Homo sapiens: one gene and its partners. The protein of the gene in region 2 purifies or fractionates together with the protein of the main gene of each other region. This does not show direct contact. Each region holds a gene or a part of one and is shown on either strand. Other genes may lie near its edges.

Region 1 (7,730 bases), on a different chromosome or scaffold from region 2:
ACTTAGATCTTGATCTTATTTCTACTTTAAGGTTCGATAGTCCCTCTTAATGATTTCCTGTTTAGCTTAATGCTTGGATGAGGCGGGGCTTCATGAGCTCTATCTTTAAGGGTAAAGCCCCTTAGCCAGACGTGGTGGTGCGGCGTGCGCCTGTAGTCCCAGCTATTCGGAAGGTTGAGGCAGGAGAATTGCTTGAGCCTGGGAGGCGGAGATTACGGTGAGCCAAGATCACACCACTGCACTCCAGCCTGGGCAACAGACCAAGACCTTGTCTCCAAAAAAAAAAAAAAAAAAAGGTAATGCCGCTTTATCTACTAAGGCTAGGCATTATTCCATGCCAAATATTACCTTCTATGTTCCTAGGTTGCTGGTTACTTCAGACCATAATCCCTCCATGACCCACCTAAGGCTGTCCATGGGACTCTGCCTAATGCTGCTAATCCTGGTGGGTGTAATGGGAACCACAGCCTACCAGAAAAGAGCCACTCTTCCTGTGAGACCATCTGCCTCTTACCATTCACCAGAGCTCCACAGCACAAGGGTCCCAGTTAGAGGAATAAGGGAGGTGTGATGTTGCCCAGAACATGACAGGGGGTAAGGAAGAGAATAATTTCTTGTGAGACAACTGGATGGAAAATCTATTGTGTATACTTAATTTCTACTTTCTTTGGAATGCCTCTTTCCCCGGTTGTCAATATTATATAGCCTGGCAATGAAAAAAGGGTGAAGTTTTACAGTTCTAAAGATCCATTCTTTATTTTGGTACAAAAATAAATTGTTCAACCTGTAAATTGTCACTTATTTTCGTATTGTTGTAAAGCAAACTTACAGAATAGGAACACCTGCTACCAGTTCCAAGAATATCACATACATATGCCTTAGAAAAAGGCCAGGTATGATGGTTCATGCCTGTAATCCCAGCACTTTGGGAGGCCAAGGTGAGAATGGATCGCTTGAGGCCAGCAGTTCAAGACCAGACTAGAAAACGTAGCATGACCCCTGTATCTACAGAATAATTTAAAAATTAGCCAGATATTGTTGTGCGGGCCTGTAGTCCTAGATACTCAGGAGACTGAGGCAGAAAGATTACTTCAGCCTAGAATTTGAGGTTACAGTGATCTCACGCTCACTGATGATCATGCCACTGCACTCCAAACTTAAGTGACAACCCATGTTTTTAAAAAAAAAAAAAAGTCACCGCGAGTTCGATTCAAACAGTGTGAAGGAGGAAGCAACTAATTATCTCCCTCTCCTGATTTTTCATAATTTTATTAAATCATCACTGGGAAAACTAATGGTTTGCGTATCACACAATTACACTACAATCTGATAGGAGTGGTAAAACCAGCCAATGGAATCCAGGTAAAGTACAAAAACGCCACCTTTTATTGTCCTGTCTTATTTCTCGGGAAGGAGGGTTCTACTTTACACATTTCATGAGCCAGCAGTGGACTTGAGTTACAATGTGTAGGTTCCTTGTGGTTATAGCTGCAGAAGAAGCCATCAAATTCTTGAGGACTTGACATCTCTCGGAAAGAAGCAAACTAGTAGACTGATGAGCTGGATTGCTTAGATTGATAACATTTACAAATAGGAGTCCAGTTGACATGCTATTAATGTTGAAATAACCATGCCTGTACTGGTCAGTGAGTTCGGTCAGCTGGTTGGAATACCAGTTCCAGAGCTTTAGGCGACACATTTGAATTGAGTTATCATTGTAGAGAGTCATGGCTCCATCAGCTATGGTTATCTTCTTTGGTCTGAATGCCTATCAGTCCTTACCAGCTGTAGCAGCCACTGCTTGGTAAAACTTTGCCACGAAGTCTGGCTCACTGAACTCCAGCTGTCTGACAAATTCATTGCGCTCCTGCTCAGCCCAGCCTCGAAACCACTGATCCCAAAGATGTAGCTGGCACTCAAAGATAGAAGGTGGTCGGTCTGCCCCAGACACACTAAGCTGCTCCAGACTATCCAGCAGTGGTTGTAATTTTTCTGGCACTGCCTTAGCTACCAGGTCCTCTAGGAAACGTTCACGCTGGGGACCTGACCAATTGGCAAACCAGTGAAGAATACACTTCATCTCCTGGGAGGTGATGTAAGACATCAGAGGAGGGGAAGGGTTAGTATTGTGTGGTACTGAGGGTAAGAGAGATGGGAAGGATAGTGGCATTGAAGAGGATGACTCCAGTGGCATCCTGAAACATAAAAGCACTGTTATATGCTCTCCAGGTAGAGCAACGAAAATACAACTTTCAAGCAACAAGACATCTTACCACACTCAATTAGCATCTACAGAGAAAATTACTTTTTATGAATTCAAAGACCCAAAATAATAAGAGTCCTTTATTTAGATTATTATCCAACTACCTTAGAAAAATCACCAAAAATAACTTCATTTCCTATTTGCCTGCCTTTTTCAAACCCATTCTTCCCCACCCACTGTCTTCCTCCATCTTTCTTATAAAGAACCTAAAAATAACCAATATATTTCTTGTTCATTCTCTTCCTCTTACTTCTATGTGCCAGGTTGGGTAAAGAAAAAAACAATGATTAATGTTGGTCCATTACATCTTCTCCAAAATGAAAATGCACACATTTTAAAATCTAGTACGTGCAGCTGGTCAAGGCTGATGCTAATTGTTTTGCAGCTATCAACAGTGGGGGAAGAAAGAAAAAACATTATTTATGATGAAAGAGCCTTCAATGTGCATATAAGCCTCTGAAATATGCCAACAACTCCATAACATCCGTTACCTCCTTACATTTCCTGTAAAGCACCAGGAAAAGTTAAAAAGCAGAGTAAGGACCTTGCTCAAAATAAGGTAACGCATGAAAGAACCAGAAGCCCGGGTGTTTGAGACGTTCTTAAAAAAGAGTCCAGTTGGTTTGTTGGCTTAGAGATCTAACAAGTGTTATACTATTTTATGACAATCCATGTCTTTAAACAATTGTCCTTAATATTTAGTATGGGCCAGACGCGGTGGTTCTTGCACTTCCAAAGTAATCTCAGCACTTTGAGAGGCCGAGGCAAGAGGATCGCTTGAGCCCAGGTGTTCGAGACCAGCCTGGGCAACATGGCAAAACCTCATCCCTACAAAAAATAAAAAAATTAGTTGAGCGTAGAGGTGCCTACCTGTAGTCCTAGCTACGTAGGAGACTGAGGTAGGAGCATCACCTGAGCCCGGGAGGTTGAGGCTGCAGTGAGCCCTGATCGCGCCACTGCACTCCAGCCTGCGTCAGAGTGGAGGGACCCAGAGTGGAGTGACAAAAAAAAAATTTTTTTTTTTTTTTAGTATGGTATCTATTGGTGCCTTGCAATTTTTTTTTTTTTTTTTTTTTTTTTTGAGACGGAGTCTTGCTCTGTCACCCAGGCTGTAGTGCAATGGCGTGATCTCAACCACTGCTTCCTGGGTTCAAGCGATTCTCCTGCCTCAGCCTCCCGAGTAGCTGGGACTATAGGCGTACGCCACCACGCCCGGCTAATTTGTTTGTATTTTTAGTAGAGACGGGGTTTCACCATATTGGCCAGACTGGTCTCCAACTCCTGACCTCAAGTGATCCGCCCGCCTCGGCCTCCCAAAGTGCTGGGATTATAGGCGTAAGCCACCGCGCCCGGCACCTTGCCACTGATTTTGCATCATGAATGCAACGGAAAGATCAGCCAATTTGACTTTAATAGTTTTCAGTCTCTTAAATCTCTAACGTATCTCTTAAATCTCTAAACTATTTGTCTGTGACCTATTTTACTGTTTGTGTTTCTTCTGCATCAAGTTGGAGGATTGGTAGTGACAAAGAAAGAAGCCCCTAAACAATTAATATTAGTTCAAGTACCAAAAAAGTTCAGGGCGCTTGCATTTTCCAGTTCTTGCCCTACAGGAAGCAGTTCCTCCAAGGGAACTTACTCTCTTCTGCGGAGCAAGGAAGAACTTTCCCAGAATCTTGCCACATGGCTTCCAAGGCAAACTCAAACTCAAGTTCAGCGTCATAGATCAGTTCATAGTCTGGGTCCGAAGACACGGCGATGCTTCTTGCGCACCCCCACGGAGCTTGTTATTCCGATTCCGCACCAGCCCCCCGCCCCTCCCCAAAAAAAGCCTAAGATGGGAGTGGCTATGATTCAGAGGACAGAGGGCAGAAGCTGTTTGCGTTAAGGAGTGGGGGGCTTGCCCTATTAAGGTAATCCGCAAACACCGAGTCTGACCCGGCCCATAGAGGTACTTCTACCCCGCTTACCTCCCCTTTTCTCTCGAAGGGCACCCGAAGATTGTCACGAGTCCTTAGACTCCAACTACTGCGGCAGCTTCCAAATTTCCTGAAAACCCTAAGCTGGGCCAGCCCGGCAGCCCACGCACTTCCGGCCTCGGACCCGCCCCAAACACCCAAGCGCCCCAGCGCCTCATCTCTAGGTCCGGAAATAAACGAACATCTCCGATTATGGTTATACCAGGGTCGAGGGTTTCCGAATATATTCGATTCAAAGCTTCGGCAAGACGAAGAAAACCGAGCCTGAAAGCAGGGCGAGAAAAGGGGCGCTGCAGGGCGGATGGAAAGAATTGATTGGTAACGATGTGGAGACGGAAACATCCGAGGACATCCGGAGGAACCCGGGGAGTTCTGAGTGGTAATCGAGGGGTAGAGTATGGCAGTGGGCGGGGTCATCTCGGTACGTTCGAAGGGCGTTGGCGGAAATTACCGAAGATGCCCGAAGCCGTCGGGACGGACCCGAGTACCTCACGCAAGATGGCGGAGCTGGAGGAGGTGACTCTGGACGGGAAGCCTCTTCAGGCGCTGCGGGTGACCGACCTGAAGGCCGCACTGGAGCAGCGAGGCCTAGCCAAGAGCGGGCAGAAGAGTGCCCTGGTCAAGCGGCTCAAAGGGGTGAGGAGTCGGCGTTGCTGGGGTGTCGGAGGAGAGCGGACCCGGTAGAGACGAGCCTCTGCCGCGGCGCAGGCGCAGTATCCGGGCTCGGCGCGAGCTCGCTCAGGCCGCCAGCGCGAGCCTCTGGATCCGCGCGCACGGTGGTTGATGAGGTTCGCGCTGGAATGGAGATCGCGCCGGTTCCCGCCTTAACGGCAGCAGCGCGAGCCCAAATGGGAGGGTGTGCACTACTCTCCAGGAGTGTCTTAAGCTCCTTCCTCCTTCCCCCACCCCCTCCTTGTTTGTATCTGTGGTTTCGGCGCATGCGCTGCAGAAGGAGTTAAATCCCACTACAACCTACGGCGTTGCTGGCCTGAGGGGGGCGAGTTGGGCTGGGTCGGAGTTAGGGGTATAGTTGCGCGAAGGGGTGGATGGGGTTGGTATCGGTATCTGCACGAATAGGACTGGGGTAGGGTAAAATGTCTGCTCGATTAGATGAGGAGGTGAGATGAAGAGAGACCTTTATTTGAAGGGACTTGATGAGAGAGAGGTCTCTAATTTAGTGGCATCTAGTGGCAATTTGGGTGGTTAAGAGTTTGGTGAATATTGGTGAGAGAGGCGAGGCAGGTTGATATATATTGGGGATTTTGAATCGGTTTGAGTAGATTAAGGTGGGATTGTCATGAGGTAGGTGTAGCTCGATTCAAGTGTATAGGTTTGGTTTAAAGAAGGGAAGATGAGGATGTCTTGGTTTTAATTAGAGTTCAACAGGATACGTGGCAGGTAGTGCAGATTAGGTCTGGGTTGGCTCCAGGGTTGAGTTGGCAGACCGTTGCTTATACAGAAGCTGATAGTTTTGTGTGTGTGTGTTTGTGTGTGTGTGTTTGTGTGGATAGACTAGGTTAGACCACAGTTTACAGGGTCTGTGGTCATTTTCTTCTGTAGCTTCCTCTTTGAAAATTTTATAAATTTGATAAATCTAGGTGCCACAGTACTGGAAATTATACAAATTGACCCTGGTACTGGGTAACCCTTTGACCAAGTAATTCCGTCAGGCAAAAACCAGGAGCCCCATGGCTGGTTTGAGTATTTTAAGTAATTTTACATGCATGATCAGATTTAGAAGGGGCACTTGGCGAAAGTGCAGAAGATAATAGGGATTTTAGTACTGGTTCTATTACTGATATTATGACATAGCCAGGTCACTGATTCTGTGTGCCTGCATTTTATATCTGTACATTTAGTAACAGTAACCATGGCTACCTTTATGGGTCTTCTGAAGATGAATGAGAACAGTGTTAGTAAAGGGTTTTCAGGTCCCTGGAAAAGGAATACAGTTTAATTGTGTGTATTTAAGTCATTGCGTTTAATTTAGAGGTTGTGGTAGAGGTGGGGGTTTGTTTTTCTTTTTTTTCCTCATCATTTCTGACTTTTACCCTTCTCTATACCAGGCTCTAATGCTAGAAAATTTACAGAAACACTCAACACCCCATGCTGCATTCCAGCCAAATTCCCAGGTGAGAAAGAAGGTGTATTCAATGGAGTGGGCCCTTTGGATATCCAGACACATGGAAGGACGTGGTGTTGTATATTTGATGCTTAAGTCCTCATGACTGTTTTCCTAAGTTCTCTTAGTCAGAAATGTTCTCAAACCAGGACAGTTGAATTCTAATCAACCCAGTTGTATACAAGGGCCTGGAGTAAAGAACAGAATCAGAGGCACTGTTAGTTTATAATAATTGAAATGGCATGTGTAGAAAGGTGTGGCTTCCATTAATTACGTGTAGTACAGAGATCTGAAGTCATTTATCTGCCATGAATTTAGGAAAGGTAGTTGATGTCTTTGAGTATAGATATGAAGTAGATCACCAATATGGCAGTGTAGGGAAATAGTTGCTGATTAAGAACTCTTGTTGATGTAGATTTTCCAAGGGTTCAATCCTGTGTAAGTCACCCACCATTACTAGTGTTAACTACTAACTCAGTGCACTTACTCATAAACATTACTAATACCTCTTTACTTAGGATAAGAAACAACCTTTGGAGGCCTTGGTCTTCTCCATTTCCTTATCTGTAATATGAGAAACAGACTAAACCCATGGGTTTATAACTGTTCTCTTAGGGTTTTGTGGAGCTGCTTTGGGGAGCTTCCTAGGGGAAATACCTTTTTCCCAAGTAAGCAAGGCTCATACTCCTCTCTTAAACTAGATTAGATCTACTTTTTAACTATTGAGTTTCTGCATAAAATTTTTAAATTATTCCACAGTTAAAATCCAAAAATTATTAGGCTGCACAGTCTCTTAAAGTTTCTTTCAGCTTTTAAAAATCCCCTCATTATAATGTGTCATATACTTAAAGGAAAAATCCAAGTCTTTGTTAAAGCAATAGTGTGCAGCCTCAGTACTAGATGAAGTCTCAGGATACTGTGGAAAACAAGAGAGCCCTCCTCCTCCTTTGTTATCACCTCATTAAGCTGTAAGTATCATAATCTAGCCAGCATTCAGAGGTTCAATTAAGTACTTTAACAAGCATAAGAAACTGCATAAGTTAATCAGCTTAATTGTATTCCTTTTGCCCATTGCATGTTAGTCTTTGAAGCTTTGCTTTTATTAACACCGGGTTTGTGCAGCAAACATGCCTATTCTGTAATACACATGCAACCCACCCTTCAACAATGTCCATTGAGTGCCAAGAGACTCATTTCTACTTTAGGTGAAAATAAACCTTTACTATGTTTAGGAAACATGACTAATAACATAGAAAGTATTCAGGTTTTTTTGCTTTTTCAGTTCTAAATAGGACTTGCTAAGCAAGAAGGTTCTAGGGAGGAGAACTTGTGAAGAGAAAGCTGGAGGTCAGAAGGGCAACTTGGG
Region 2 (7,019 bases):
CTCGCTCTGTCGCCCAGGCTGGAGTGCAGTTGGCGCGATCTCGGCTCACTGCAAGCTCTGCCTCCCGGGTTCATGCCATTCTCCTGCCTCAGCCTCCCGAGTAGCTGGGACTACAGGCGCCCGCCACCATACCCGGCTAATTTTTTGTATTTTTTTTTTTTTTTAGTAGACACAGGGTTTCACCGTGTTAGCCAGGATGGTCTCGATCTCCTGACCTTGTGATCCGTCTGCCTCAGCCTCCCAAAGTGCTGGGATTACAGGGGTGAGCCACCGCGCCTTGCCGTTTTTTGTTTTTTGTTTGTTTGTTTGTTTTTTGAGACAGAGTCTGGCTCTGTCATCCAGGCTGGAGTGCAGTGGCACAATCTCAGCTCACTGCAACCTCCACCTCCTGGGTTCAAGCGATTCTCCTGCCTCAGCCTCCCGAGTAGCTGGGACTACAGGCATGCACCATGACACTGGCCAATTTTTGTATTTTTAGTAGAGACTGGGTTTTACCATGTTGGCCAGTCTGGTTCTCAAACTCCTGACCTCAGGTGATCCACCCACCTCGGCCTCCCAAAGTGCTGGGATTACACGCGTGAGCCACCATGCCCAGCCTTAATTTTTGTATTTTTAATAGAGACAGGTTTCACTATGTTGGCCAGGCTGGTCTCGAACTCCTGACCTCAAATGATCCGCCCTCCTTGGCCTCCCAAAGTGCTGGGATTACAGGCATGAGCCACCGTGCCTGGGCTGTTTTGTTTTGTTTTTATTTAGAGAAAATCCCGTTTGCTTACTTGCTTTTTTTTTTTTGCTAAATAAACAGAATTATTCTGTCTCCTAAAAAACACCTGAGACTGTAATTGTAAATAGATATATATGTTTAGATAAACCTATTGAATTATTGAGAGACAAGAATATCATGATATACAACCTTTTTATTGTTTTTGGATGAGACTGTTGTAGGCTCAATCTAAATCATTAATCTTACTCACTTTTTTTAATAACATGAATTCAGTAATACTATGTGGCTGATTTGACTATTAAGATTTTCTTCTGTTGAATTGATTGTATAAAAGAAACTTTTTATTGATAAAAGGTATATAGATGTTGAAAAATGTGATGTTAAAAATGCCTTTTCTTACCATTGTTTCTCATCCTGGTTTTTCTGATTGTATTTCCCCTGTTTCTTCCAGGAGGTTATCATCTTGTGAAAATTGGAGATCTATTCAATGGGAGATACCATGTGATCCGAAAGTTAGGCTGGGGACACTTTTCAACAGTATGGTTATCATGGGATATTCAGTAAGTTTTAGTGGTTCTGTAAAAGAATTAGTTAGATGATGTCTAAATGTGTTTGTCTGAGTTTCCACTGCTGATCCAGGCTTCAATCTATCTCTAGCCTGATTCATTTATCAGAATTTTGTTGTTGGCAATAGTCTCTGTATTCTTGGAGAAACCACTTTTCTTTCGTGAAGAATCAGTATTATATATCTCCCTTTCTACTATAGAGACAGGAGTGATTAAATTAATGCTGGTAAAGCTTTTGTCGTTTGATTTTTTTGTGATTTTTATCATTTTCTTTTCACCGAAGTATTTCTTCTGGCTGCCTATGGGAAAATATTACAGCTTTTAACCTTTTAGTTTTTGCCTATATACAGATATATACACAGAACACTTGGAATTTGGTAATATCTTTCCCCTTATTTATCCTCATTTTGCAGTTTTGCTTGTAACTCAGGGAGATATTCAAAAGAAGGATTTTAACTCAGAGAAAATGTTCAACAACTGAGATTATCTGAGAACAGATTTTTTATTCTTCCTATAAATGAAATCTGGCCAGTTAGTGTCATTAACAAGTATAAATGTTCCCATAGAAGTAGCTTGTTTGGGCTACAGGGAAACGTGAAATCAATATTTGTCCTTTTTAACCATCTTATAGCTAAATCTTAGCTTCCTAAAGTAAGGGTAGGCTATGTAGTCTTAATTGCCTGTGTTTGTTTCTTAGGGGGAAGAAATTTGTGGCAATGAAAGTAGTTAAAAGTGCTGAACATTACACTGAAACAGCACTAGATGAAATCCGGTTGCTGAAGTCAGTGAGTATTAGATTATATGTATGAATGTGAAGAATTATAAATAAATCAAGTTTCATTGAATAAAAACACACCAAGTGGAGGCTCTTTAGCATGGATAATTTTCTCTATAAAGTTCTAGTAACCTTAAAGAGGTAAAGGAAGACAACAATATTTACACATACCATGCATGTAGTAGGGAACTGGTGGCAAATGCTATGATGAGAATTCTTCTTACACGCATGAACCAAAAAAAAACCTTTCAAATGAATAAAAATATTCACTGAGCATGTTTTACAGGCCAGGTAGCTACTGTCATAATGTTTTTTTTTCCTACTATGGTTAAAAGGAAAGTTGTGTAAATAAATGTATAGCATCTTTTTTGTTGTTTTTCAAATATGTTATAGAATACATAATATAAAAATACTGTATTTACTGATTCCATTTATACCTGGAAACTGAGATAAATTCTATCAAAAATGTATTTTTAGTTCTGTTTTAAATTAGGAATATGCCAGTGTGGTAGAAGGAACTTAAATTCAGAATTAGAAAACCTGGGTTTAGGTCGCCTTTACCCCGGTATGTCCTCCATGTTACCATTTTTTTCTTTCTGAGTCTCAGATTTTTTATTCATAAAGTGAGAATGTTGCACCAGGAGATTTCTATGGCAGTAGTTTTCTTTTTTATTTTCAACTCCTGGCCTCAAGTGATCTGCCTTAGCCTCCAGAGTAGCTGGGGTTACAGGCACAAGCCACTGCATCTGGCTTAAGACAGTACTTTTCAGAATGTCCGTTTGTGACAAGATAAGGAGCCTTGTACCTACCCAAAAGTAAATCAACATACTGTTTTCTTCATTGAGAAAGTTTTTCCATGAAAAAAAAAATGTCCGCTGAAAAAAACAGTGTGGTTAGTGCTGTAGTTGATTTGCATCCTGCAAAATCTTCTTAGTTCCTCATAGCCTGGTAATCATCAGTTAATTTGGAGGCCACACTTTGATTGATATCAGGGAGCAAAATAGTTTAATTAGAAAAATAGTTCCTGTTGGTTGTATTTCCTCTTATGAATTGACTATTTAAGATTTTTCTCCATTAAAGCTATTGAAATTTTAGTATATTTTAAAAATAGATTTATGTGAGCTCTTTCTTGTAGTTAATTTGCTGTAAGTATTCTTCCCCTACCATCTGGTTTATTTCCATGCTTTACCTTGTGCTAAACACTGTCTCTTCCCCACTACAGGTTCGCAATTCAGACCCTAATGATCCAAATAGAGAAATGGTTGTTCAACTACTAGATGACTTTAAAATATCAGGAGTTAATGGAACACGTATCCTTTTAAAAACCTATTTGAGAATAAATCATCCCAATCCCAAAGAAAGGAACTAGATTTGTTGTGTAGATGGCCTTGGTGTCTTTTCTAAGGCAAACTATAATAAAATTACCTCTTTTATTGTACACTTCTGAACACACATCTGAATTTTGTCTAATTTTGTGTGGTGTGATTTTTCAGAATATTGCTTTAAGCTTCTTGTCCTCTTTTCAGGCAAATTAAAGCGAAATCAAAGGAAACTTTTAGAAAATGCGTTGTATCACTAAGTAAAGAGTCTATGATTTTTGTCAGTTAGCACAGAAACTTTAAGGGAAGTAATTTCTTATGAAAAATACTGAGTAGGCCGGGCACGGTGGCTCAAGCCTGTAATCCCAGCACTTTGGGAGGCCGAGGCAGGTGGATCACCTGAGGTCAGGAGTTCAAGACCCACCTGGCGAACATGGTGAAACTCTGTTTCTACCAAAATACAAAAATTAGCTGGGCATGGTGGCAGGCTCCTGTAATCCCAGCTACTGGAGAGGCTGAGGCTGGAGAATCACTTGAACTGGGGAGGCAGAGGTTGCAGTGAGCCGAGATTGAGCCCACTGCACTCCAGCGTGGGGGACAGAGCCAGACTCTGTCTAAAAAAAAAAAAAAAAGATACTGTCTAAAAGAAAGAGAAAAAGAGAGAAAGAAAAAGAAAGGAAGAAAGAAACTGGATGAACAATTTAAGGTATGATTGTATTTATTATACTAAGCCTCAACTTTGAAGAGGCTGTGAATGTAGTTTATGTTTAGAGTCTAAAAGGGTGTAATTGTTCACATTCTATTATAATGAAAAACTGACTTGTTTTATGTTTTTATCTGGATGTTTTAGAACTGTAGAATTGAAAGGAACCATAGCTGATTTTCTTCACAGGTATCAAAGTGACGTGCGGTGAGCTAATGGAAAGGTTATTGCAACAGCTGTGCTTATAAAGGTCAATCAGATTTTTCAGTAAAAGATGAAGTCGAATCTTACTTAGATTGGATAAATCTAAAATCACCTGTTTATAAGCTGTTTTTAAAATGTATAAAGACATTTCATACATTATTTTACTTTTCATGCATGTTTAGCTTCCTTTAATGCACATTCCTAATTGCTGTTGATCTTTTTGTATTTAAAGGAGACAGGACTACATATGACTAGTTTCATGTAGACTATGGGAAGAGATTTGAACAGAGAAGCAGGAAGGAAGGGATGGGAAAGGAGAGAGAACAGCTGATAATGTGGAAAGACTATTGTTCTAAAGTCAATTCTGAGTCATTTCTTAGAAAAATACAAATCACAGATTACCCAGATGTCTAAGGAAAACTGCTGCAACCATCTTAAAACAGTATCTTGTGCTTATTGTGGTCACTTTGTAGATGGCTCTCTCTCTCTCTCTCTCTCTCTCTCTCTCTGTGTGTGTGTGTGTGTGTGTGTGTGTGTGTGTGTGTGTTCAAAGAATTAAGAATTCTAAACCAAGTAATTTTTTAAAAACCTACACAGGGTGTCGTGATGGCCATATCTGTTTTTTCTATTATTTAATCTTGTAATGTTTGTCATTGTGCCAGATTTCTTTACTAATTTGCAAAAGTTCCAAGTAAAACTATAGAAATACTCTCAAATCTCCCCAGTAATGCTGAGTACCTTTATTTGACCCTAACTAAGCAAAGAAGGCTTTTTAACTATTGAAATATCTTAGTAGGTTTGAATTTCAAGTTCCAAGATATTTTTCTTTTTCTTTTTTGGAGTTCAATGGCATAATCTCGGCTCACTGTAACCTCTGCCTCCTGGGTTCAAGTGATTCTCCTGCCTCAGCCTCCCGAGTAGCTGGGATTACAGGTGGATGCCACCACACCCAGCTAATTTTGTATTTTTAGTAGAGATGGGGTTTCACCATGTTGGCCAGGCTGGTCTCAAACCCCTGACCTCAGGTGATCTGCCCGCCTCGGCCTCCCAAAGTGCTGGGATTACAGGTGTGAGCCACCGTGCCCGGCCCCCAAGATATTTTTCAAACATTGCTAGGTGGTTTCTCTGTAGCTTCTGTCCATTGATTCCCTATTTTATTCTTTTCTCCATTTGTTCTTAGCCATTTTTTCCTGTCTTTCTTCATCCTTATCTCCCAGCTGTCTTTGCTCCTGCATTATTTACTACTGTTAGAGATTGAAAGGATATAACTCAAAACACTATGTTAAGGGTTAGTAATGGCTCATGTCACTCTCCTGCCTCTACCCGTTTTCCCAACATAACATACCCACACAGAGCAGTACATCCACATTCGTGTGTATGTTTGTTCAGGCGTTTTTTTCTCTGGACCACTATCGTTTCTCATATTAAAATATAAAGGGCCCTAAACTAGAAAGTTAGTTCTTACAGAATTCCATATAAACTGGCTCACTCTACTTGCCTGGAGGGTGAGGGGAAAAGAATGATTAAGAAGGAGGACAGTTGGTTTCTCTATATAATGTTGACATTAGCCAGTCATTATTGTCTGCTTATATGACCTCCTATGTCTTTAGGATACTTTTTTTTTCATGCTGTATTCTGTCTGTTTTGCTAGCTCCTCTTATTCATAATGTGCCCTAAATGTGCTTACTCAATAACATAAGCCTTTTATTTTCAGCCTTTTGTTATTTTCTTTACACTGTCTCCCCATTAGATTTTTTTAAAAATATAACCTTGTGGGCCGGGTGCAGTGGCTCACACCTGTAATCTCAGCACTTTGGGAGGCCGAGGTGGGCGGATCACGAGGTCAGGAGACCGAGACCATCTTGGCTAACACGGTGAAACCTCATCTCTACTAAAAATACAAAAAAAAGCTGGGCGTGGTGGCAGGCGCCTGTAGTCCCAGCTACTCAGAAGGCTGAGGCAGGAGAATGGCGTGAACCTGGGAGGAGGAGATTGCAGTGAGCCAAGATAGCGCCAACTGCACTCCAGCCTGGGCGACAGAGCAAGACTCCGCCTCAAAAAAAAAAAAAATAACCTTGTGATTTCAATTACTAGTGCTTCTGATTGCTACTCATTAGCTTTCTTTCACTCAAATTATTTGGCTCTTCCTTTTTGCCACTTGATTATGATGTTCTGTCAAGTTTTTTTTTAAGCTACTATATGTTTGGTCATTTTAATATCACTGCTTACAAATTAAAACATTTTCAAATTGTAATACTTCTCTCAACAAATAAAAATTAAGCAGATGGAAGCTAGAAACATAAGAGAATAGCTTTACAATCCTATTTTATGTTTAGTCTTTTTAAGTAATCTGCATTTTAAATAATCTTGTTTTGATAATTTTTTTTATTTAATTGCTTTTTTATTTTTATTTATTTTGAGACAGAGTTTCGTTCTTGTTGGCCAGGCTGGAGTGCAATGGCGCAATCTCGGCTCACTGCAACCTCCGCCTCCCAGGTTCAAGCGATTCTCCTTCCTCACCCTCCCGAGTAGCTGAGATTACAGATGCACACCACCACGCCCAGCTAGTTTTTGTATTTTTAGCAGAGACGGGGTTTTGCCATGTTGGCGATCCACCTGCCACAGCCTCCCAAAGTGCTGGGATTGAAGGCATGAGCCACCATGCCCAGCCTATTTAATTGCTTGTTTAAAAAAATTTCCTGGCCAGGTGCAGTGGCTCACGCCTATA
Region 3 (7,784 bases), on a different chromosome or scaffold from region 2:
ATAGGCCTTTAGAAGACACACACACACAGTCTTCAAAAAGTTTATGGAAAATGTGTATTATGAAAAAACTATGCATGGATTTCAAATGTTTTTAACAAAATAAACTCATACGAACTTGTTACAACATTTCTAAACAGGATCTAGTTTGAGGCCCTAAGAGGGATAAGACATCAGTTTGAAAAGGGCCTCTATTAGAGCAACATGAATTCTGCTAAAATTGAAGAAAGAACAAACATCAAATTTTTTGTGAAGCTTGGGTGGAATAATGGTAAATTATTCATGCTTTACAAAAACCTTATGGGGACAATGCCCCCAAATAAATCAGCAGTTTACAAATGGATAACTTGTTTTAAGAAGGGATAAGAGAGTGTAAAAGATGAAGCCCACAGCTGCAGATCATCCACATCAGTTTGCAAAAACAAAAAAAAATTAATCTTGTTTGTGCCCTAATGGAAGAGGACCAACAATTAACAGCAGAAACAGCAGCCAACACCATAGACATCTCAATTGGTTCCACTTACACAATTCTAACTGAAAATTAAAGTTGAGCAAACTTTCCACTTGATGGGTGCCAAAACTGCTGCAACCAGATCAGCTGCAGACAAGAGTAGCTTTCATTGGAAATTTTGAAGTGAGATCACAATCCTGAAGCATTTCTTCAAAGAATTGTAACAGGAGATGAAACACGGCTTTACGAGTACAATCCTGAAGACAAAACACAATCAAAACAATAGCTACCAAGAAAATGGCAATGGGCTAGTCAAAGCAAAAGCAGACTGGTCAGCAGCAGAGGTCATGGCAACAGTTTTTTTGGGATGCTCAAGGCATTTTGCTCGAGGGCTAAAGAACGATAACATATGCTTATTATGAGAGTGTTTTGAGAAAATTAGCTGAAGCTTCAGCAGAACAACATCTGTGAAAGTTTCACCAGAGATTCCTTCTCCATCTTGGCAATGCTCCTGCTCATTAATCTAATAGCCGGGTGCGGTGGCTCACGGCTGTATTCCCAGCACTTTGGGAGGCCGAGGAGGGTGGATCATGAGGTCAGGAGATGGAGATCATCCCAGCTAAAATGGTGAAACCCCGTCTCTACTAAAAATACAAAAAATTAGCTGGGCATGGTGGTGGGTGCCTGTAGTCCCAGCTACTTGGGAGGCTGAGGCAGGAGAATGGCGTGAACCTGGGAGGCGGAGTTTGCAGTGAGCCAACGTTGCACCACTGCACTCCAACCTGGGCGACAGAGCAAGACTGTCTCAAAAAAAAAAAAAAAAAATCTGGTCAAACAAGGGCAATTTTGCAAAAGTTTTGATGGGAAATCATTAGGCAGCTACCCTGCAGTCCTAATTTGGCTCCTTCTGCCTTCTTTTTGTTTCCTAATGTTTAAAAAATATGTAAAGGGTCCCATTTTTCTTCAGTTCATAATGTAAAAAAGACTGCATTGACATGGCTAAATTCCCAGGACTCTCAGTTCTTTAGGGATGAACTAAATGCCCAGTATCATTTGTGTGGTATCACTTGTATGTTCTCAATGTGCCTGGAACTTGATAAAGCTTATGTTGAGAAATAAAGTTTGTGGTTTTTATTTTTCTTTTAATTGCACTTTTCCATGAACTTTTTGAGGTCCCTTCTGTGCATATGTAAGTTTGGTTCTATTTTTCTTTTTTTACCCAGCCATCAACTTGACTTTATAGGTAAGTTTAGTTCTATTCAGTTTACCACCCTGTAGTTCCTGTATCCACCATCACAGTCAAAAATCAAAACAGTTCCAACACCAAAAGTGTCCCTCATGTTGTACTTTTATAACCACACCCACTCTCCCTTGGTTGGGAAGGGGTCTCAGTTGTCTCAGTTCCTCTCAACGTGGGCCTCTCCACAGGGCTGCTAGAATGTCTTGAAACATGATGACTAGCTTTCCCCTGAACAAGAGATCCAAGGTGGGAGCTAGGGTTTTTTTTTGTTTGTTTGTTGTTGTTGTTTTTGTTGTTGTTCTTGTTGTTGTTTTTTGGCAGAGTCTCACTCTGTCACCCAGGCTGGAGTGCAGTGGCTTGATCTCAGTTTACTGCAACCTCTGCTTCGCAGGTTAAAGCAATTCTCGTGCCTCAGTCTCTCAAGTAGCTGAGATTACAGGCATGTGCCACCACACCCAGCTAACTTCTGTAGCTGTTCGAAGTGAAGGGAAAATGTGGATAAACTTTAAAAAAGGAGGAGGAAGAGGAGAGAGAAAAGAAGAGGCAAGAGTTGCAAGTGAGAAAGCTCTTGGCTTGCTGTCAGAACCTCTGGATGCTACTTCTACTCCATAGAGGTGTAATTCTGGGTAAACCACTTGCCTCTCTGGACCTTTTCTTTCATTTGCAAAGTTATGAGGAGGGGGTTAGTGAGGGAGGTTCATTACATTATTTTTAAGTGCACCTCTGCTTTTACTACTTTATGTAAGGGGTTTACAAACTGTGGCCAGCAAGCTAAACCCTGCTGGCATCTTCTTTGTACACCTGTGAGGTTACAATGGCCTTTACATTTTTATTTGTATTAATTAATTAATTAGAGACGGAGTCTTGCTCTGTTGCCCAGGTTGGAGGGCAGTGATACCATCTCAGCTCACTGCAACCTCCACCTCCCCAGTTCAATCGATTCTCCTGCCTCAGTGTCTGGAGTAGCTGGGATTACAGGCGTGTGCCACCACAGCCAGCTAATTTTTTTTTTATTTTGAGACAGAGTCTTGCTCTGTCGCTGAGGCTGGAGTGCAGTGGCATGATCTCGGCTCACTGTAGCCTCCGCCTCCTGGGCTCAAGTGATTCTCCTGCCTCAGTCTCCTGAGTAGCTGGGACTACAAACACGCGCCACCACGCCCAGCTAATTTTTGTATTTTTAGTAGAGACGAGGTTTCACCATGTTGGCCAGGCTGGTCTCGATCTCCTGACCTCATGATCCGCCCACCTCGGCCTCCCAAAGCCCTGGGAATACAGGCATGAGCCACTGCGCCTGGCCCACGCCCGTCCCATGCCCGGTTAATTTTTGTATCTTTAGTAGAGACGGGGTTTCACCATGTTGGCCAAGCTTGTCTGGAACTCCTGACCTCAGGTGATCCACCCGTCTGGGCCTCCCAAAGTGCTGGGATTACAGGCATGAGTCACCGTGCCAAGCCCCCCCTTTTTTTTTTGAGATGGAGTTTCTTTGGCTCTTGTCACGATCTTGGCTCACTGCAACCTCTGCCTCCTGGGTTCAAGCGATTCCCCTGCCTCAGTCTCCCGAGTACCTGGGATTGCAGGCGTGTGCCACCATGCCTGGCAAATTTTGTATTTTTAGTAGAGACTGGTTTCACCATGTTGGTCAGGCTGGTCTGGAACTCCTGACCTCAGGTGATCCACCCGCCTTGGCCTCCCAAAATGCTGGGATTACAGGTGTGAGGCACCGCGCCCAGCCTGGCCTACATTTTTAAATGGAGAAAAAAATGAAAAGATAATATTTCATGGTATGTGAAAATTATATAAATTTAAAATTTTATATAATTTTAATAAATGTTTGTAATACAGCCACAATCATTCCATTTACATATTGTCCCTGGTTAATTTTAAGCCAAGACATTGTATGACGAGTAGTTGCCATAGATACCTCAAGGCTCACAAAACCAAAATATTTAGTATCTGATCCTTTGCAGAAGTTTGCCTATACCTGTTCTATGTATATATAGGATGTCTGTTTATTTGAGGTTGATCCATTTCTTTTATATGAGGTGCGTGCTCATTAGGTATTTTTCAAAATGTTATTACAATGCATAACCCCATAAACTGTTCATCATCTTAAGAGGAGAAGCTCTGTTTTGCTCAGCATTGGACTCCTAGTGCCTTACTCAGTGCTGGCAATTGCAGGGACTCAGTATATGTTATTGGGTAAACATTTTAACATCAGTGCTAAATCAGTGATTTCAAAACTCCAGAAAGAATTTCTCACCTACTAGAAAGTAAGTTGACTATTTCAGTAGTTTCTAATTTGTCTTAAAAATTTTTTTGTAATCCTTCTTTGCTGATTAAAATTCTCCCTTCCCGTCCCCCAACCACTGAATTTTAGATATACAATGAAAAGATAATTAAAAACAAACTATTGGAGTCATTTTTCTTCCTAAATAAAGCAACATTTATTAATAGTACTAGCAAAATTGAAATGGCCTCAGCCTTTTACATCCGTGCGCCACGTTTTAAAAATGACGATTACTGGATTCCAAGGCATGGTTGTCAGAAACATTCTGCGTAATTAAAGCAGAGCAGCAGAAAATACAAACGTGAGTGCCAATCAACATGAGTGTGTAAAGAAAAAAAGTAAAATTTTGCATTCTGTGCAATGTGTCGAACGTGAACGTATTGCACGTTGTGTTGCAGATTTACTACAGCTGAGTCATTTCGGGACACGAGTGTGTGTTTCCAAGAAAAACGAGAGGAAGGAACCAGGCTGAGGGGCTCGCCGGGTTCCCCCAGGCACTCCCAGCAGCAGACACCGGTATTCCGCGGCGGGCGGCGGCGTGGTCAAAAAAAGGCGCCGCTGCCCCTTTAAGAGGCAAAGCACCTTTTCCAAGATACCATCTTGCACCAGGAGTTCACTTAAGCTCTCCACCTACCTTGCTATATCTCTCCTCCCTGACTGGGTACCGCCTGCCGGCGGGGCGAGCGAGCCTTTTCATTGGTCTTGCCCTCAGGGCCCCCTCTCTCTTACTGGTTCTCAGGCCTGCCACTCGGCACTGTCTCCCGCCCACCTCAGCCTTCGGGCTAGGTTGAGTGAGGGCTCTTGGGTTAGTTCCTGTTAGGCCCCGGCCGGGGGAGTAGGTTGAAGTCTCCTAAGATGCCCGGTGGGCTGGGGCACCGGGAGCTGTGAAGGGAACGTGAGGGGGCGGCGTAGTGGAGACCCACGGCAGGCCTGAAGAAGAGCGGCGGCCGAGCCCGCCTTCCCTGCACCATGCTCATAGAGGATGTGGATGCCCTCAAGTCCTGGCTGGCCAAGTTACTGGAGCCGATGTGAGTGAGCCGGGCTGGGCCGGGGCCGGCGAACGTGGGCGTTGGGGGCTCGCGGGGGCGTGGGGGAGGGGAGGTGGCGTGGGGGGCGGCGCTGAGGGGCCGCGGCCGGGAGGTCCCGGCGACGCCTTCCCTGTAGTACTATCACCATTGTGGTGGGGGTGAGGGTGGGAGAGGAGCGCTGGGGACGGAGAGGCGCCGTGAATATGGGGACTGGGGGGGCAGGCAAGGACAGCGAAGGCTTTTCAAACGCAAATATCGGGGTGCTGGAAGGGGTAGCAGGGGCCGTGAGGGAATTTAAAACATTGCTGTTTGAGAACTGAGAGAGAGGTAACGGGGCTCTTGAGGGATTTTTAAAATGTGAATATTGAGATGTCGAAGGGAATAGCAGAATATCAAGGGTTTGATAAACATTATTATTCCGGGACTGAAAGGTCTAGAAGCAAAATATCGAGGGCATTTTCGAAATATGAGGGCAGAAGCGGATAGCAGGGACATTGAAACTGTATAGCGATTATTGGTAAGTTCTGAGGGATCAAGAATATTGAAGGATTTGAAAAATACTATGGAGTAGATGAAAAGGATGTGTGGGCATTGAAGGGTTTTAGAAATTATTGGGGAGGTGATAAGTGTGATAGCAAGGATATTAAGGGATTTTAAAGTATTATTGAGGGCTTGATAGTGCTAGGGGAACTGATGACTTTTAGATACATAGAGGTTGGAAAAAAGAGGTTTCTGTAAGTTTAGTTGAAGGTTGAAAGGGCTACACTGGTATGCAGCATTAATTGGTGGAGGAGTATACCTAACAGTATGTAGGGATTTTTAGATACAGGTGGTGTTGGAGGAATAAAAGGAGCGGTAGAAAGAATAAGAGATTTGTAAGTATTCTTGTGCCATTGAGAGGACAGTTTTGTAAATGTTTTTGTAAGATTGAGAGGACACCTGAAGATAATTGGGGTGTAGTATGAGGGACCGAAAAGAATGAGAGACCTGTCTTTTAAAAATATTTTGGGTGGTGTTAGTAGAAATGTTATTGGGAGGCTTGAAAGAGGTAACAGATGTATCAACATTTTGTTTTATAACCTTTTTTTTTTGAAACAATGTCTCGCTGTGTCTCCCAGGCTGGAGTGCAGTGGCTGGATTTCGGCTCACTGCAACCTCCGCCTCCCGGGTTCAAGCGATTCTCCTGCCTCAGCCTCCCGAGTAGCTGGAACTACCGGCGCGCGCCACCACGCCCAGCTAATTTTTGTATTTTTAGTAGAGATGGGGTTTCGCCTTGTTGGCGAGGCTGGTCTCGAACTCCTGACTTCAGGTGATCCGCTCGCCTTGGCCTCCCAAAGTGCTGGGATTACAGGCGTGCGCCACTGGACCCGGCCATGTTTGATAACCATTTTAAAGGGTAGAGTTGTGGAGTGCTTATTTGGGGGAATGGGGTATGGCTAGTTACTGGAAGGGAAAGAATCATGTTTTGCCTCCTCCTTGCTTCTGCTTTATTATTCTCTTATTGAAGGTTAGAGCTTTCTGCTTGAAAGAAAGGGGTAGAAGAAGAGATGGGCAGGCTTTGATTCATTAGGTCAGATTGCATTAGTGGAAAATTTGAGTGTTTTTCGGAGGTGAAAATAGGGAGTAGTTTGGGAGGTGTGGAGGCATGGTAAAGGAACTTCTGGGGGACAGTGTCAAGCTACTTCCCTGTTGATCTCTTTCAGTGAAAATGACTGAACACACTTGAAGGTTTTGTAGAAGAATATAGGTCTCTTGAATAGGGGTTTTTTTAACTCCTACAATAAAGTTTTGGGCACAAAGATGGAAATGGTTTGTGGTGAAGGTGGGAAATAAGATGGATGTAATGAAATTGACCATATATGGGAAAAGGTTGAAAAAAGAAAAATATCTGTATGTTTAAAGTATTCTTCATGTGGCTGGGCACGGTGGTTCACGCCTGTAATCCCGACACTTTGGGGGGCCTAGGCGGGCGGATCATGAGGTCAGGAGTTCAAGACCAGCCTGGCCAATATGGTGAAACCCCGTCTCTACTGAAAGTATAAAAATTAACCGGCTGTGGTGGGGCGTGCTTGTAGTCCCAACTACTCGGGAGGCTGAGGCAGAAGAATCGCTTGAATCCCAGGAAGTGTAGGTTTCAGTGAGCCTAGATCAGGCCACTGCTCTCCAGCCTGGGCAACAGAGCCAGACTCCGTCTCAACAAAATAAAAATAAAAAAAGTGTTATTCATGTTATTTAAGATTAAAAAAGAAAAAATACATCTCTTTATTTTGTATTTCTGCTGCTCTGATGCCTTTAGAAAAAACAACCTACTTTCCAGACAAGTTTAGTTTTGTTGGTAGCTATCCTTTTAAGAAGAATTAAACATACATTTTATGTCTTGGATAGAAGGTAACAACTTTTAGCCTTATAGTTACTTGCTTTTTCTTTTTTTTAAAGCTCCCTAAGATGTTTTACTCTGAGTAGTGCTTTTCGTTTTTTGTTTTTTTTTTTTTCCCCTTAATGTTGAAGGTTAGTCTGGGTGGGAGCTTCTTCTTGCTTAGGCTTTTTTTTTTTTCCTTCTTTTTTTTAAAGCTACTTAGACTCATAAGTATGATCATTCTGTAATTTTCATGAGTAAAAATTATCTTTCAAAATGATTACTTGAGTTTAGTTTCTCCTTTTGAGTTATATATTCAACTTAAAGTTCACATGCTTATTTTTTTTAATTTTGTTGCTCATTTAGGGTAAAAAAAAAAAGGCTAAAATACTTTATTTGTTTGTTTATTTATTTATTGAGATGGA
Region 4 (7,964 bases), on a different chromosome or scaffold from region 2:
ATATCTGAAATAAATACAATTTTCATATATCACAACAAAGCTATTTGTGCAAACGACAAGATTATATACTACAAAAGTTAATTGTATCATTAAGAATAAATTAGAAATAAAGTATCATTTTCAATGAGGAAGACTATCTGATTTTCAACGTATTACCATTTCACTCCATTATCCTTAAGGTTCTAGAAAGTTATGGCTATACTGTTTAAAATATTTATCCCATCACAAGAGAATTTTAAAGTCAAGAACATATTGATATTTCTGAAAGTATTATAGTATCACAAGATACACAAAACATTGTTAAATAGCTTATACAATAAAAACAGTTGCATATTTATCTCAAGTCAGAGGATACTGTAATTTACTTTAGATTAAGTACTTATCTGAAACTAATTATATTATAAAGAAAATTAAAGCCCCAAATCTACTTATTCAGCAGTTGGATTTATAAAAAAATCAAAGTGAGATAATTTTGCCCTTTCACTGCTAATTACTGTTTTTTTGTTTGTTTGTTTTTTGTTTTGTTTTTGAGACAGAGTCTCACTCTGTTGCCCAGGCTGGAGTACAGTGGCACGATCTCAGCTCACTGCAAGCTCTGTCTCCTGGGTTCACGCCATTCTCCTGCCTCAGCCTCCTGAGTAGCTGGGACTACAGGCGCCTGCCACCACGCCCGGCTAATTTGTTTTTGTATTTTTAGTAGAGACGGTGTTTCACCATGTTAGCCAGGATGATCTCGATCTCTTGACCTCGTCTTCTGCCCACCTCGGCCTCCCAAAGTGCTGGGATTACAGGCGTGAGCCACTGCGGCAAATTCAGCAGACAACAGTTATACTGACAGGAAACAGTAAAATGTACTACTGAATGTATAAATCTATAAGATACTTCAATGGCTTAAGGAGTTAATCACCAATGAAGCCCAAATTCCGGAGGATAATGATCACATTCAAAATCTAATTTGACCAGCAACTAAATATAAATGGTACATGAAGAATATCAAGAGACTTAAAAGTTTGTTCTTCGTGTTTTGAGAACTCTTTGGAGAAGTCGAGGCTTAATCTGACCCTATTTGTGTGCAGAGACTTATGAAGTTATTATAGGAATCCAAAATAAGATAGAAACATTCAATCACTTCCATATTCACAAATATGAGGAAATTACCTGATTGTTGTGGTAGAAGTGTCTTTGCCTACTAAAAAGTGGTGTCTGCCCTCTCTGATCTGCTGAGCCCATGTGGGATGAAACCATATTACATGTGAAAAATGGCCAGCATAAACTGCAGGCATAATCCAATTTTCAATACTTAATTCTCTGGAAAAGAAACATAGAGACAACATTAAAACTTTTATTTTTATTTTTTCCCAAGTGTAATTTTATCCACAACATTTTAAGACCACAGGTCTCAAAGTGTGGTCCCTAGAGTGGTTCCTGAGACTTTTTCAGGGACATCACTATTACAAAACTATTTTCATGAAAATACTAAGGCATTATTTCCTGTTTTCATTTACTGACATTTGCAAAGATGGTGCAAAGGCACTGGTGGGTTGATGTTCCAACATTAATTAAGGCAGCAGCACCAAACTGTTAGTAGTTACTATATTCTTCATTACCAACCACTGCCAAAATAAATAAATAAATAAATATAAAAGTGTCATTCGAGAACATCTTGATTTTATTAAATTTCCATCCTGAGTATACATTTTTAAATATTATGTGTGGCAAAATGAGAAATGCACAGAAAGCTCTCCTGCTACATAGTTTGAAGCATAACAGTTGTCTCAAGGAAAAGCACTTGTGATTGAACTTTGAGGTGAACACCATTTATCTTGAAAGGAGTGGTCAAGAAACTATGGTTATTCACACTTGATACTGAATTGCTGAATTCTACATTTCAAATAAGCTTTAATAAACTACTACTTTTCAAGTTTTGGCGCACTATCAAAGAATATTCACAATTATCTAAAAAGGCTATCAAAATATTCTTTCCTTTTCCAATTACATGCCTGTGAAAGCCTGAATCTTCATCATATATTTCAACCAAAACAGCATATGGCAATGGACTAAATGCAGAAATAGACGTGAGAATCCAATGGTCTCTATAAAGGCAAATATTAAAAGGATTAAACATTGGCTAGGCTGTTTTTGTAAACAAAGTTTTTTTGGTTTGTTTCTTTTAAGAGATGGGGTCTGGTTATGTTGCCCAGTCTGGAGTGCAGCAGCTATCCACAGGCTTTGATCACAGCCTGGAACTGCTGGCCTCAAGTGATCTTCCCACCTTAGCTTCCTGAGTAGCTGGGACTACAGGCTCATCCACCATGCCCAGCTTGTAAATAAAGCTTTATTGGAACACAGCTACTGTCATTTGTTTACACAGTGCTTGTGATTGCTTTCACACTACAAAGGCAAAGATTAATAGTTGCAACAGAGACCATATAGCCAGCAAACCTAAAATATTTGCTAATCTGGCTCTTTAAGAAAGTTGTCAACACTTGTTCTAAATAAAATGAAAAAGACAAAAAGACAAACAAAAAACCCCCAAACCCATGAGTTTAGCAAAGTCTATTTCCTATAATTGCTTATTATCTACTGCAAATTGTACTTCAAACACAAAAGACCATAAATAAAATCACATATTACCCAAAGAGTGTTTCCTTATCAAACACGGTGTCTGCTGGCATATTCACAGGAATAAGGAGGTCTGGATGTGAGTCGAAATGTAAAAAACTTACATTACTGGCAGGAAGATGCTTTGAGCCTATGGCCCGGTATATAAAGGGTAGAACCTGTAAAAGACACAGGCACACAATAAGAATTAACACTGAAACCATGAGCACACACTCAACTGCAGACTGAAAAACAATGCTAAATAATGCACATAATTGAAAGCATACTATGTTGCTGTAAAGTGGAAAAACATAAAATTTGTTTACTGTAGATGGTGCAGATGATAATCTCAAGCATTACTTTGTCCTCAGAACTTCCAACCTGCATCTCCAGCGGCCTTCCTGCTGCCCCCTTGAACTCAACAGGTCATGTGGGGAAACAGACCAGGACTGGGGCTCAGGAACAAACTACCGCTTAATGCCTGTTCTAACATTAACTAGGTGTTCAAGGTACCCTAGGTCTCAAAGTATTCTTTTTTTTCCTTTAAAAAGGGATAGGGGCTTGTCAGTTGCCCAGCCTGGAAAGCAGTGGTGTGATCATGGCTCACTGCAGCCTTGGACTCCTGGGTTCACACGATCCTCCCACCTCAGTCTCCTGAGTAGCTGGGATTACAGGCACGCACCACTACGCCCAGCTAATTTTTTCACTTCTATTTTTGTAGAGATGGGATTTCGCTCTGCTGTCCAGGCTGGTTAGGGTCTTTTTGGTACACTTAGAATGGTGGGGTTGGGCTAGGTGGTCTATAAAGGCCATTTCTCCTCTTACATCTTCTCTAATTCTAGGTTTAATACCTAATTTGAAAGCACCGTCTAACCTAGGCTTTCTCATTCTCTCAAGGTCATAGACACTATATCCAGGTCCTGAGAAACCTATCTTCCTCTCCTATTAGCTGTCACCAACAGTAAATCCCTCTTCTTTTTTAACGTCCAGAGAACTGCCTCCCATCCCAAGCCTACTGATGCTACTTTAAAACATATTTATTAGATCCATGGGCCTCCTTTGTTGACTTGGAAAAGTCTAGATTAAGACACCAATTTGGCTACTGTAAATCAGCACGGCCATAAACATGGAAACCCCTTTTAGTGTTTATCTATGCAGGGCACCGTGTTAAATTTTTTTTTTTTTTTACGCAATATGGGCCGTGCGCAGTAGCTCACGCCTGCAATCCCAGCACTTTGGGAGGCCGGCGGGGGCCGATCACGTGAGGTCAGACTTTCAGACCATCCTGGCTAACGTGGCGAAGCCCCGTCTCTACTAAAAATACAAAAATTAGCTGGGTACGGTGATGCGTGCCTGTGATCCCAGCTACTCAGGAGGCTGAGACAGAAGAATCGCTCGAACCCAGGAGGCGGAGGTTGCAGTGAGCCGAGATCGCGCCACTGCACTCCAGTCTGGGTAACAGAGAGAGACTCCGTCTCAAAAAAGAAAAAAAAAAGATTTTTAAACACAGTATGCACACAATAATACTCCTAAGAGCCCTGTGAGTCCTACGATTACTGTCCCCATTTCAGATCAGAGCCCACGTTCCAAGCATAAAGCCTCCCATCTAAACAGCAGGGCTGTGGTGGCGATTCCAGGAGATACTTGGAAGCCAGAGTTAACTGCAGGTTAAGAACACAGGGCTCTGCAGCCAGACTGTCCGGTTTCGAATCCCGATGCCACCTTTTGTTTGGTTCTGGGATTTGGGGGCAAACCGAGGTAAATAAGTTGCCCCGACTCGTAGGAAGCGCCCATAAATGTCAGTTCTCATTCTTCCTAGTTAGCTGTTTTGGGGTCCTCTCCACAGCAACGGAATAGGGCAGTTTAACTCTGGTTAACTCTCTGGCCTCCGATGCTAAGGTTGCGCCCTCTGCTTGGCCCTCTGAGCGTCAGGGCTTCCGCTGATTCTGCCCCAGAGCCCTGTTGCCGTCCGCTCACCTCCTGATGATCCTCCACCACCCACACTGGGAGCTTGGGGTAACGCCGGAGACCAGCGCGCCCTCCCGCGGAGTCACTCATGTTTTTGCGCCCGTCAGTTTTGCAGTAAAGCGGTGGCAGCTGGAGAAGACCCGGGAAAGCCGGCGCCTCATCCCGGCCAGCTCTCTCCGGGCGGAAGCGCTCCCTCACCCGGTTGCGTTTTCGGATTGGAGGACGTAGGGGGAGGGGGCGCGGGCTCCAAAGGGTCTTTTGCTGACGATTGGTCTAGACGTCCATCGCTTTCGTTGACGCGCCAATCACCGCGCACAAGGCCCTGCGGTGGGCTGAAGAGTTTTCCCTCCCTTGGCCCAGCTTTCTCAGGTTTGCTTTTTAATTCCCTCGGTTTCCTGTTCCGGAGGCGCGGGCGGTGCCACTGTCTTGGTACCTGCGGTAGTAGCCTGGCTTTGCTCTGACGGCGATCTCGCGGCCCGAGAGCCTTTTATAGGTAAAAGGGGTACCTTGCAAGTGTTAGAAGAGAGTTTCCGAGTGTCAGGATTTAAACGGGGCTGGAGTCTCCGGGGCTGGGGTGAAAAGCGTCCGGGAATTGGGGTCGGGCAGCCCCACTTCAGATCTGCAGCTAAGGGCAAAAGAGCGACGCTAGGCCTGGATCCCGCAAATAAGTGGAAGTGAAAAAGGAGACCTTTCATTCATTTGTGGAGCACACACTATGGTCCAGGCCTGGGGCCGCCCGGCTCTCGGAGGGGAGTGAGATCCTGAGCTCAGCGCCTGCCTCGTGGGGCGTACCGTCTGGCGGGAGATGCAAACAGTAAATGTGCAGTTATGGATCAGGATGAAGGTGACTGCCCTGCAGATCCACCTGGGGAAAGAGGGAGTTCTCAATAAAAATGTAGTCACACTTTAAAATTCTTTTTACATGCACTGACGTTCTGGCCGTGTTAACTATTCAAGACAGCTCCTTCAGTGTCTCTGTTTCCAAACCGCAACCGAGAAGAGACAGACGGAGAAAAGAGAGTTACTTTTCCAGGTGCAGTGAATTCCTTGACTTTTGAATTAAAGTCTGCATCCACAACACAGCCGGACTATGCCTTCAATAGGTCAATTTCATGATTAGTATTTTTAGATTTTCTAACTACTGAAACATCCATGAGGATCTGGCAGTGAATGTTCAGCTCTTGTTACACACTGTACAAGAGTGTTCGTGACCCTGACTTTTGCCCACCTCTAGGTGCGGCACACACCTTTGTGTTCCCCTAAGCCCTGCACATACCTCTTTTTTGTGTGTTTATTGCATTATTTTGTATTTTTAAAACACTTACTTGTACGTGGGTTCTGAGTTCCTTGAATCCTACAGGCTGTGTGTCTTATTATCTCTGAGTCTACAGGGCCTGGGACAGTGCTTCCCATTTATGGGCTCATTAAATATTGCATGACTCAGTGAAAAGGCCTGCTTTCTGTTGCGGAGGTACATGGAAGGGAAATGTACAGTAGCAACATGGAAACATACTATTGGTGAGAGAGTAAACATTTATTGACCACCTACTGTGTGTAGGTTGCTTTTCCCGGGGATGTGAAGGATACAGAAATGACTGTGAATCAACCCATATCATCAAGGAGCTGATAATCTAGTGGAAGAGTTAGACGTGTGCATACTTCACTATGATATGAGGCAGTCTCTGGTAAGTGCTGTAAAAGGATTAAGTATAGACTAAGTCTAGAGGGAATGGGATTACCTAAGGGAATCAGGAAGGGCTTCATAGAGGAGGTGGCATTTAAGATTGATAGATGGATAGAAAATCACTGGGCAGATTCATACGTTGGGAGATTTTTTTTTTTTTTTTTTTTTGAGCTAGAGTTTCGCTCTTGTTGCCCAGGCTGGAGTGCAATGGCGCGATCTGAACTCACTGCAACCTCTGCCTAGGGTGGGAGATTTTAGAGAGGAGAACGGGAGCAAAGAACTAGCTGGTTCTTTGTACTCGAATGGTAATCTGTTGGGAAAACATGGGGTAGTAGGGTCTTTCTGGGGAAGGTACTGGAGAACAAGCCTGGGTCCAGAGTCAATAGAGCCTTAAATGCCAAGCACAGAGGTTGAACTTGATTCTGTTGGCAGTGAGTAGCCTATGGTGGCAGGAGCACCTGTCCGGGCCCCAGGTTTATCATGAGGGTACTGGACTGGATAATAGTAATAAGGAGTCAGGCGCAGTGACTCACGCCTGTAGTTCCAGCTATTTTGGAGGCTGAGGTGAGAGGATTGCTTGAGCCCAGGAGTAAGAGACAGCAGTGAGCTATGATTGCACCACTGCACTCCAGCTTAGGGACAGAGTAGACTTTGTGTCTTAAAAAAAAAATCAGATATTATTTGGTGCCTATTATTTATTAAGCACACTGACTGCTAGCATAATCTGAAATTATTTTCATGAGCCATTTGAAAGTCTACATAGTAAAGTTCTATTGATGAGACTTTTAGAAAGACTTTCAGAAAATGTTTCTATGTTACAGCTTTTTGTACTCAATATTTATGTGAGTTTTTAAAAAATGTTTTGCTGAAGTTCAAGTATTTGGAAAATCATTCATGTTTACAGTGTTTTTATGTGGGAGGAACTGAGAATGAAAATTAAGAATCATTAACTGGTGTGTTAACAAGATTCTGGTTATGTTTGAATTTGAATGCTGGTCTCACTGTGATTTTTGTGTTTGGTCTATGCCTACATGGTTTGTTTTTTTTTTTGTTTTTTTTTTTTTGTTTGTTTTTTTGAGACTGTCGCCCAGGCTGGAATGCAGTGGCGCCATCTCGGCTCACTGCAAGCTCTGCCTCCCAGGTTCATGTCATTCTCCTGCCTCAGCCTCCCGAGTAGCTGGGACTACAGGCGCCCACCACCACGCCCGGCTAAGTTTTTGTATTTTTAGTAGAGACAGGATTTCACTGTGTTAGCCAGGATGGTCTCCACCTCCTGCCCTCGTGATCCACCTGCCTCGACCTCCCAAAGTGCTGGGATTACAGGCGTGAACTACCATGCCCGGCCTATGCCTACCTGTTTTTACCATGAAGGAAACGAGAGTATGAAGGGGGAGAGGGGAAATGATATTTTTCCCAAGTCTTTTAACAAATTAGAGATGATCTATGCCTATAAGTCTTTTTAGCTGCTGATAGTTTTGAGTTGGCAAAACTAGTAATAATGACATTTTAAAATTTAAGGACATTAAAAATTTAGTTGGAAACTTTAACACAGTTCAACATGCTTTTAATTTTGTTTGTAGGCTAAGTGTATTGGAAACTACAAAATTAGTGTTATGGTAATTGCAGAAATATTTTGTAGCATTGGCAGTTTGGGAAACATGTTTATGTCTGTTTTATTCTTTCTGTTTTTTAGAGCTTATATTCTCTGTGG

The links.
Region 1: the proteins of SRPK1 (region 2) and ACIN1 purify together in Homo sapiens (affinity purification with mass spectrometry; 3 studies listed by BioGRID and IntAct, with this or other methods). This does not show direct contact.
Region 3: the proteins of SRPK1 (region 2) and RBM27 purify together in Homo sapiens (affinity purification with mass spectrometry; 3 studies listed by BioGRID and IntAct, with this or other methods). This does not show direct contact.
Region 4: the proteins of SRPK1 (region 2) and DROSHA purify together in Homo sapiens (affinity purification with mass spectrometry; 4 studies listed by BioGRID and IntAct, with this or other methods). This does not show direct contact.

The regions. Positions count from the first base shown.
Region 1 is NC_000014.9:23,092,123-23,099,852, reverse strand, and holds the start of ACIN1 (apoptotic chromatin condensation inducer in the nucleus), read left to right. Parts: upstream 1-4,740; coding exon 4,741-4,878; intron 4,879-5,068; exon of another isoform or gene 5,069-6,201; intron 6,202-6,308; coding exon 6,309-6,374; intron 6,375-7,730. Other genes in the region: CIROP (ciliated left-right organizer metallopeptidase isoform 1 precursor), read left to right, coding at 364-571; uncharacterized protein C14orf119, read right to left, coding at 1,772-2,194.
Region 2 is NC_000006.12:35,883,080-35,890,098, reverse strand, and holds part of SRPK1 (SRSF protein kinase 1), read left to right. Parts: intron 1-1,175; coding exon 1,176-1,284; intron 1,285-1,987; coding exon 1,988-2,075; intron 2,076-3,287; coding exon 3,288-3,375; intron 3,376-7,019. UniProt on the Homo sapiens protein: Serine/arginine-rich protein-specific kinase which specifically phosphorylates its substrates at serine residues located in regions rich in arginine/serine dipeptides, known as RS domains and is involved in the phosphorylation of SR splicing factors and the regulation of splicing.
Region 3 is NC_000005.10:146,198,822-146,206,605, forward strand, and holds the start of RBM27 (RNA-binding protein 27), read left to right. Parts: upstream 1-4,783; 5' UTR 4,784-4,944; coding exon 4,945-5,003; intron 5,004-7,784. Other genes in the region: RBM27-POU4F3, read left to right, coding at 4,945-5,003. UniProt on the Homo sapiens protein: May be involved in the turnover of nuclear polyadenylated (pA+) RNA.
Region 4 is NC_000005.10:31,529,088-31,537,051, reverse strand, and holds the start of DROSHA (ribonuclease 3), read left to right. Parts: upstream 1-4,958; 5' UTR 4,959-5,062; intron 5,063-5,526; 5' UTR 5,527-5,602; intron 5,603-6,127; 5' UTR 6,128-6,254; intron 6,255-7,946; 5' UTR 7,947-7,964. Other genes in the region: UPF0489 protein C5orf22, read right to left, coding at 1,159-1,308, 2,001-2,093, 2,635-2,780, 4,579-4,659. UniProt on the Homo sapiens protein: Ribonuclease III double-stranded (ds) RNA-specific endoribonuclease that is involved in the initial step of microRNA (miRNA) biogenesis.